2 linked regions of the Homo sapiens genome follow. The protein of the gene in region 2 interacts with the protein of the main gene of each other region in a pairwise test. Each region holds a gene or a part of one and is shown on either strand. Other genes may lie near its edges.

Region 1 (3,816 bases), on a different chromosome or scaffold from region 2:
GAAGGCAGAGAGAGCTGCTCGCTGGGGCCCTCGGTGGGGGCAGCGACTGACTCGGGCACTCACCATCTACCACCCAGAGCTGGGACGCAGCAGTGCCAACCACCTCCCCAGCCAGAAAGTGGGTCGAGGCATCGAAGGGCACCTGGCAGAACCCCAACCCAGCAGGCCGGAGACCAGACCACCAAGCCAGCTCTGGGCCTCAGTTTCCCCACCATAAAATGGAAAAACTTAAAGAAATAAGCTAAAGTTGCTGAAGGCTGTCACACTGTACCCAGTGACCACGAGTTCCCCACCTGGGCCTTGGCTCTGACCCCACCCACTCCCCTGTGCTCTGTGCTGGTTCCCAGCCTAGGCATGTGGGTCACAGGGCCCTGCCTGACCTCCCAGCATGGAGCTGTCCCTCCATGTGGGTCAGGGGCAGCCTGCCTGAACCTCCAGTATGGGCATCAGGCAACCTGTCTGTCTCCCCAAGTATGAGGGTCCCTGTGCCCCCAGTATGGGGAGCAGGGTGGCCTGCCTGTCCCCTGTCAGCACAGAGCTGGTGGCGGTGCTTTCCAGGGAGGCCCCACACACCTGACTCGGATCTCCTGGATGTCAGGGACCAGCAGGCGCTGGGGCTCCTTGTCTGTCTCTGTTGCCCGGGCAGGGGAAGGGAGCTTCTTGGAGTCGGCCTCTGGCAGCAGCTCGGGCTCTGGGCTGGCTGGCCGGGAGCAGGGCTGCGGGGTCCTGGGAAGCAGAGGGAAGTGCTGCCCACTGCAGGCCTCCCTGGGCCTGGGGCCGTCTTCCCCCAGGCTTCACCCTCCTCAGAGCACCTCAGAAGGTGCAGTAGGGCACCTTCGCAGGGTCTCTCCAGCTGTGCCCACAGTGGGAGCTCCCGGGGCCCGTCCACCAGGATAGCCAAGCTTGTGCCCGATTCCAGGAAGTGCTGGGCTTGGTGGGCAGGGTCCCCCAGGAACCTCGGGGCCCAGCCAGGGAGCCTGTGCCCCACTCCACGCCCTTCTCCCAGTGGCTCTCCTGCCCCCACCTCCACCCTGTGAAAGCAAGTCCAGCATCTCTTCATCTCCACAACTAGACTGAAGGTGACACGAGGTTCCAAGGAGCCACTGGAGCAGAGGGTGCCGATGGCCTCCCGCATGGGCCCCCCACATGGGCCAGGCCCCACGCGACTCGACCTGGTGGTCAAGGAGGCCTGCAGAAGACAAGGCCAGCTGATGCCACCGTCTTTCTTATTTAAATGAAAATCTGGAACCCTTAAGGCGCTTAAAACAAGAGTGAAAAGCATCTGCCTGCTTATGAATTGTACATAAGGGGTTCACACGAGGTCTCTTCCAAATGCGGACCTGCAGGGGCCAGGTGTCCCCTCCACAATACTGACTCTAACGGCTCTCATGCCCTCTTTCGTAACCTTTTCTTTTTCCATTATTTTATAAGCACTGTCTCAGGAAAGGGGAGCTTTAGCTTATTTTCCACCCATTTCTGGTCTTCTTCAGGGAAGAGAACACACACACACTAGGATGGAGCTGGCGGGGCACAGGCACCCTCTGAGAGGGCTGCGGACTCCACTCCTCCAGGCCCTTCCCTCAGCCTGTGGCCACCCCAAGGCACTCGGCCATTGGGGCCCCCTGTTCTGTGCTCTCTGTGCCCGAGTCACGGCCATGGTCATGGGTCAGCCGTGGTGCCAGAAGCCACTCCGGGAGCCTGGAGCTCACTCACCTCAGGTCAGTGGCACCGTACCGCCCTTCAACCAGAGAGGGGCAAGTGGAGGAGGGGGTGAGAGTGGCCACCCCTAGAGGGGACATCGACGGGTCCCGGAGCAGGGTGACAGACATCTCGGAGAGCTGCGGAGGAGAGGCCTTTTTCAGGGGACACAGGGAAGGGGGGTCTCCGGCCTCTGTGGGAGCTGCTCCCTGTGCCTGCGCTTACCCCACACCTGCTGCTTAGGGCACCCCACCCCTCCTACCAGCAGCCTTGGCTCAAAGTTGGCCAGCTCAAGACCCCCGGCCCCCTCCAGCCCCTGTGGCCCCTGGCCGGCCCCTCCCATCACTTCAGGCTCTGGCCTGACCCAGGCAGCCACCCTGCCAATGCCTCGAGGAGTGGGCTGGGTAAGCTCTGCCCTGCCGCCTCCTGCCCATGCCAGCGTGAGGTGGCGCTGGGTGATGCCATGGGGACAAGGAAGGCCATGGGCCAGGGCTGGAGCTCCACGCATAATGCAGCACAGCAGCAGTTTCCCAGGCTACAGGGGTGGGGTCGGTCCCAGGAGGAGGAGGGACAGCCAAGTGGGAGCTTGACTGACTGGGCCAGAGGCCACAGGGTGATGGCCAGACAGGGTGGGGGCCAGGAAGACAGCAGAAGCCTGCAAGTGCATGGGTGCATCCAAGGCCACAGGACCCACCCGGCCCCTCACTCACATCCCCACCTCCCATGGACCCCAGGCCGACCCAGGGAAACCAGCCACTTAGGTATGAGGTGTCCCTCTGCACTGAGACGTGTTCCTAGGAAACTCTTAACTGCCTTTTCCCACTTGGAATGGGAGTTTTCCTCAGGGACCACTGCCTATGGGAGCCCGAGCCCTGCGGGGCAGCCTGGTGCAGCCCCTCTGCACCCACCTTGCTCTCGCTGGCACTGACGCAGACGTGGCTGTGTGTGTACTCTCTGTTGAATGTGTGCGTGAGCAGGCGCAAGCACTGTGGACAGAGCACACGCGTGGTCAGGGGCCAGGCCTCCCGGGACCCTGCTCAGACAGCCTTGCAGGCTCTTCTACCCACCCCTCCCCAGACACAGGTGGGTTCCGACGCCAGAGCACAGTGGGTCAAGGTGGGCAGCACCTCCACCCCGCCCAGGTCATCGGGTGAGCCCAGGAAGTCTCCCAGGGTCAGGCACCGGCTGAGGGCCTGGTGTGAGGGCCAGAGGCTGTGCTGCCTCCAGTGCAGGAGGCGCAGGAAGCCTTCCCAGAGGCCCGTTCAGCCGCCAAAAGAGCCACTTGTGGGTGGAAGTGGTGAGCTCCCCATCAGCACAGGTATTCAAGAGAGTGATTCATCGCTTGGGAAGGGAGGCTGCAAAAGGCACCCAACTTTCAGTGCAGGTGGGGTGCAGTCAGTGGGCAAGGGGACCCTAGGGACCCCTCAAGCTCCTAGCTCCTGGTGGTGCTAACCAGAGCAGCCATGGGCAAGGCCGGGTTGCTGGAGTTGCCCAGAAATGACTCAGGGCCCTTGAGGGCCTGGGGCTACGGCTGTACTGCCCACCAGCTGGACCCACCTTGACGGCCAGCTCCCGCTGCCTCTCGTTGGGAGCCTCCAGGGGTGATGGGCGGCCCTCAGCCGAGAGCGGGGAGGAGGCGCTGGAGGAGCCATGGGACTCAGAGTCCTCGCTGAAGGCCGGGGACAGTGCCTCCGGGACAGGCCGCTGGGCGGTCTCCAGCTTCTCCCGCAGGAGCAGGTAGTGCCTAGTCTTCTCCACCTTCAGACAGGACACAAGGCCTTACCTGCTGCACCTCAGGGGTGACCTCCGGAGTTGTGCTCAGCCTCAGCAGCAGCATGACCCTCTGGGCAGACCCCGGAGAGCCCACCCTCCCCTGGGCTAAGACTGAAGACTGACAGCCCTCAGCTGTGAAATGAGGGAACAGACCCTGGCGCCCCGGGGCTGACAGCCCTCAGCCCCCACCCCAGCCCTGCCACCTTCATGGGCAGCAAGCAAGCTGCTCCTCTCAGACACATCCATCTCACGCGCCAGGTTCTGGGGCAGGGCTGTGCTGCCTTGCAGTGCTGGAGGCCTCAGGAGAGGGCCGAGGGGTGGGCAGAGCCCTGGCCTCACGCATCT
Region 2 (3,816 bases):
ACACACAGCCTTCCACCCCTCTCCCCCCAGACAAAAAATTATAGCCAGTTTAGCATTTACTCTTTACAAGGAACTTATTTTCTGAATCTGTCATTAAAAAGTACCTTAATAACTCTCTGTTCTACCACAGTATCCAACCATTCAATAAAAGCCTCCACAGTGGCATTCTTCTTAAGGAGATCCTTCAGTTCTTGGAACACAGTGATAGAGTCATCTACCCAGGAAAAAAAAAAAAAAGAAAGAAAAGAAAACAGAATATTGTACTCTACTTGGAATCCAAGAGAAAACCTAAAACTTGGAATCATCAATACTTTGATAGCATGAAAGGGAAAGACAGATAAATGTGTGAAAAGAATTAATATCATATCTTGAAAACAGTAACAAAAAAATCCTTAGTACTGTACTCTTCAATGGTGTGTGTGTGAGAGAGAGAGAGACAGGATCTTGCTTTGTTGCCCAGGCTGGAGTGCAATGACGTGATCATGGCTTACTGCAGCCTCAAACTCCTGGGCTCAAGTGACCCTCCTGCCTCAGCCTCCCAAGCAGTTGGGACTCCAGGCACGCACCAACAAGCCTGCCTAAATTAAAAAAAAAAAAAAATTATAGAGCAAGGTCTTGCTGTGTTGCCCAGGCTGGCCTTGAACTCCTGGGATCAAGCAATCTTCCCACCTCAGCCTCTTGAAGTGTGCCCGAAATTTTAATAAGTGTATATATCTTGGTATATATTGAAATATAGGTTTAAATCTTATATGTGTATTCACATACTAGGGAAGATTAAGTTGTTTATGTAGTTAAATATTCATTTTGAGTCTAGTGTTTTCATTAAACGGAACAGATTAGTTAAAAGTGAATGAATGAACCTAAGCTTGGTGATTTCCTGCTTTCCAAAATATCTTTTATCTTTAGTAAAAGTTAATTTCTTCTCAGCAGAATTGAGCCATTTACCTGAATAACGTTTTATCATGTAATATTTAAAAGGGCAGTTTAAGACTATCCTTTTATTAAAGGTTTTAAGGTTTACTGAATCTCAAAAGGTAATCCTATTTTATGTTAGGAAATAAAAAGTGGAGTTGAGATTGGGCCCCAGAGAGCAGTCCATAGTTTGTGCTCCAGTGTATAGGAGGCTGCAGGTTTTGTCTTTTCAAAGACAGAGGGAGGAAAAAATAGTGGCTGTTATCCCTTGAAATTCAAGCCTAGTTGTCTAGCCATGCATATTGGCTTGGTAAGCTCTCTCAGATGGTCCAAACCTGAGTAGAGAGTCTGCTTTGAAAAGCAGTATTGTGCTGAGATACCATTTTGATATTTATCACACACCACAGGATGACAAGACTATAAAACACATGTAAATTTCTATACATGTAATGTAAAACTGAAAGAAAACTTACAAAACTCAAAACAATTTGATTATTTTCAGATTATTTCCATTTCATTTATTTCTAGGTAATGAAATTACAGATGACTTTTATTTTCCTCAATATTTTCTATCTTTTCCATGGTGAGTAATTATAACTATTTTTTATTAGAAGATAAATTTTTTTAATTAAAAATATTTTTATAAACCAGGTTTTTTTTCAATCAGATGTGATTTTTCAGCCCAGAACACCTTTGACAATGTGGGGAAACATTTTTGGTTGTCTCAGCTTGGGGGAGGCTGCTACTGTCATCTAATGGGTAAAGGTCAAGGATGCTGCTAAACATCCTACAGCACACTGGACAGGCTCCTCCAACAGAGTTACCCAGCTCAAGATGTCAATTTTCTGAGCTTAGAAAACCTTGTTCTAAACAAAGAGAATGGACTTACGTTCAGTGTAGATACCAGATTCAGTGTCTGTGCTGCCTGAAATGGTAAGAAGGGCTTGAGAGCCAATGCTGTTCAAATCAACCCTTTCAATATCAGACACCATAGAATTAACGACATGCTGGTCAAAGAGAGCTGGTCTGGCAATCTGCATAGAGAAAGTAAAGAAGACACTACACTATATCATTTCTAATGTATCTAGAAGAAATTTTTAGCTATCAGAAAAATAGTTCCTTGAGATAAAAGTATCATAAATAACTTTTTTCTTATTTTAAAGACAAAAGCAGTAGCTGAGACTCATGATCATCTCTGTTAAAAGTCTGAAAATTATAGGAGATACACCTAATGTAAATGATGAGTTAATGGGTGCAACACACCAACAGGGCACATGTATACATATGTAACAAACCTGCACGATGTGCACATGTACCCTAAAACTTAAAGTATAATAAAAAATAGAAAAAGAAAATATAAATGGATTCTCTTTGTCCATGATCACAAAATAAGAATTTTTAAATGTTACATTTCCTATCTGAAATCATCTCAAGCTTGTCTTTTAAAATTTAGAAGGCAAGAAACCTTCATAAAGCAGATAATCATTTTGGGGAAAGAGAAATATATTTTAACAATATACAAATGCATCATTCTTAACTTATGAATTACTTTTGCTCTATTTAAAAGAGCCATGATTAGTCGGCAGTTTAAAATGTGTTGAGTTTGTGGTTTCACAATATTAAGTATCACACAGGCTTACTTCTCACAACCTTAATTTGTACCAATTAGATTCACATGGCAAATAAATGTTTAATTGCATTCAAGTTTTTTAAATTTCCAATCACAGAGAAGTTGCAAAGATAGTGCAGAATATTTCCATATACTCTCCATCCAGCTTCTTATCATCTTCTGTAACTATTGTATATTACCCAAATTATGAAATTAACATTGGTACAATACTATTAACTACAGACATAATTCAAATTTCACCAGCTTTCCCACTAATGTGCTTTTTCTATCATAGCATTCACTTCTGGGTCTCACGTTGCATTTAGTTGTTGTCTACTTAGCTCCCTTCAATCTATGAAAGTTCCTCAATCTGTCCTTCTCAGAAGATTCATTTTTTATATGGTGACTCAAATGCTCTCGACTTAGCAACCAACATACCTGGGCAAGATGTAAGAAAGATGTTTGTCGTTTCAGAGAAGATACAAATCTTCGCACAATAGGTATTTTCTTGTCAGTTAGAGCTTCTGGCAAGTTTTCCAAGGATGAAACAACCCACTGTTCCCAATTTTTAGCAAAATTTCTTATGTCTGCTAATAAGCTACAAAGAAGGCTATGTGTTAAATGCTTCATTGTTAAAAAATGCATTAAACAATCATATTTTAATTGAGGTATACTATTATTCTATGGTTTCATAAGCAGTACTTTTGAAGTCAGACAGCCTAGATCTGCCATTTATCATCTTTTCTTATGCTATATTTTTAAAATGTTTGTGGGTGCATAGGAGGTGTATATATTTATGGGGTACATGAGATGTTTTGTTATCATCTTGGTCAAAACACTCAAGCTCTTCAAACTCCACTTCAAGTACCCAATTCAGAGTACAGAATAGATATTTAAAGACTACAATTGATAATTAAAAGACATTATTGATCAGGCTAATACCAACTATCATATAGATGAAATAATCTGGAGGAAAAGGTAAATAAAAAGTAAAATTTGTTTTACCAAGCAACATCTATTTTTGGAGCACCAACTATGTCCAGTCCTATATGAATTTGTACCCCCAAAATACTAAAATAAATTTTATCATTTCATTAGATTTTGTTTTCAGAGAAAAAGTTGGCTTTTTTTTTTCAGAATTCTATTGTTCTTATATTGAAAAGGTTTTTTTTTTTTGAAAAATCTTCTGGTATTGTTTCAATAAACTATTTGAGATTTTATTCCTTTGTTAAAAGAAGGCAGTAATTTCATCATGCCACTTTCTGATTTTGTAATTAAGACAAAAGTTAATAATA

The links.
Region 1: the proteins of RFX6 (region 2) and KIF1A interact in a two-hybrid assay, tested with the Homo sapiens proteins (one large-scale study listed by BioGRID and IntAct).

Annotation. Positions count from the first base shown.
Region 1 is NC_000002.12:240,719,201-240,723,016, forward strand, and holds part of KIF1A (kinesin-like protein KIF1A), read right to left. Parts: intron 3,457-3,816; coding exon 3,256-3,456; intron 2,685-3,255; coding exon 2,607-2,684; intron 1,839-2,606; coding exon 1,714-1,838; intron 727-1,713; coding exon 574-726; intron 1-573.
Region 2 is NC_000006.12:116,918,440-116,922,255, reverse strand, and holds part of RFX6 (DNA-binding protein RFX6), read right to left. Parts: intron 3,120-3,816; coding exon 2,960-3,119; intron 1,947-2,959; coding exon 1,802-1,946; intron 215-1,801; coding exon 105-214; intron 1-104. UniProt on the Homo sapiens protein: Transcription factor required to direct islet cell differentiation during endocrine pancreas development. Specifically required for the differentiation of 4 of the 5 islet cell types and for the production of insulin.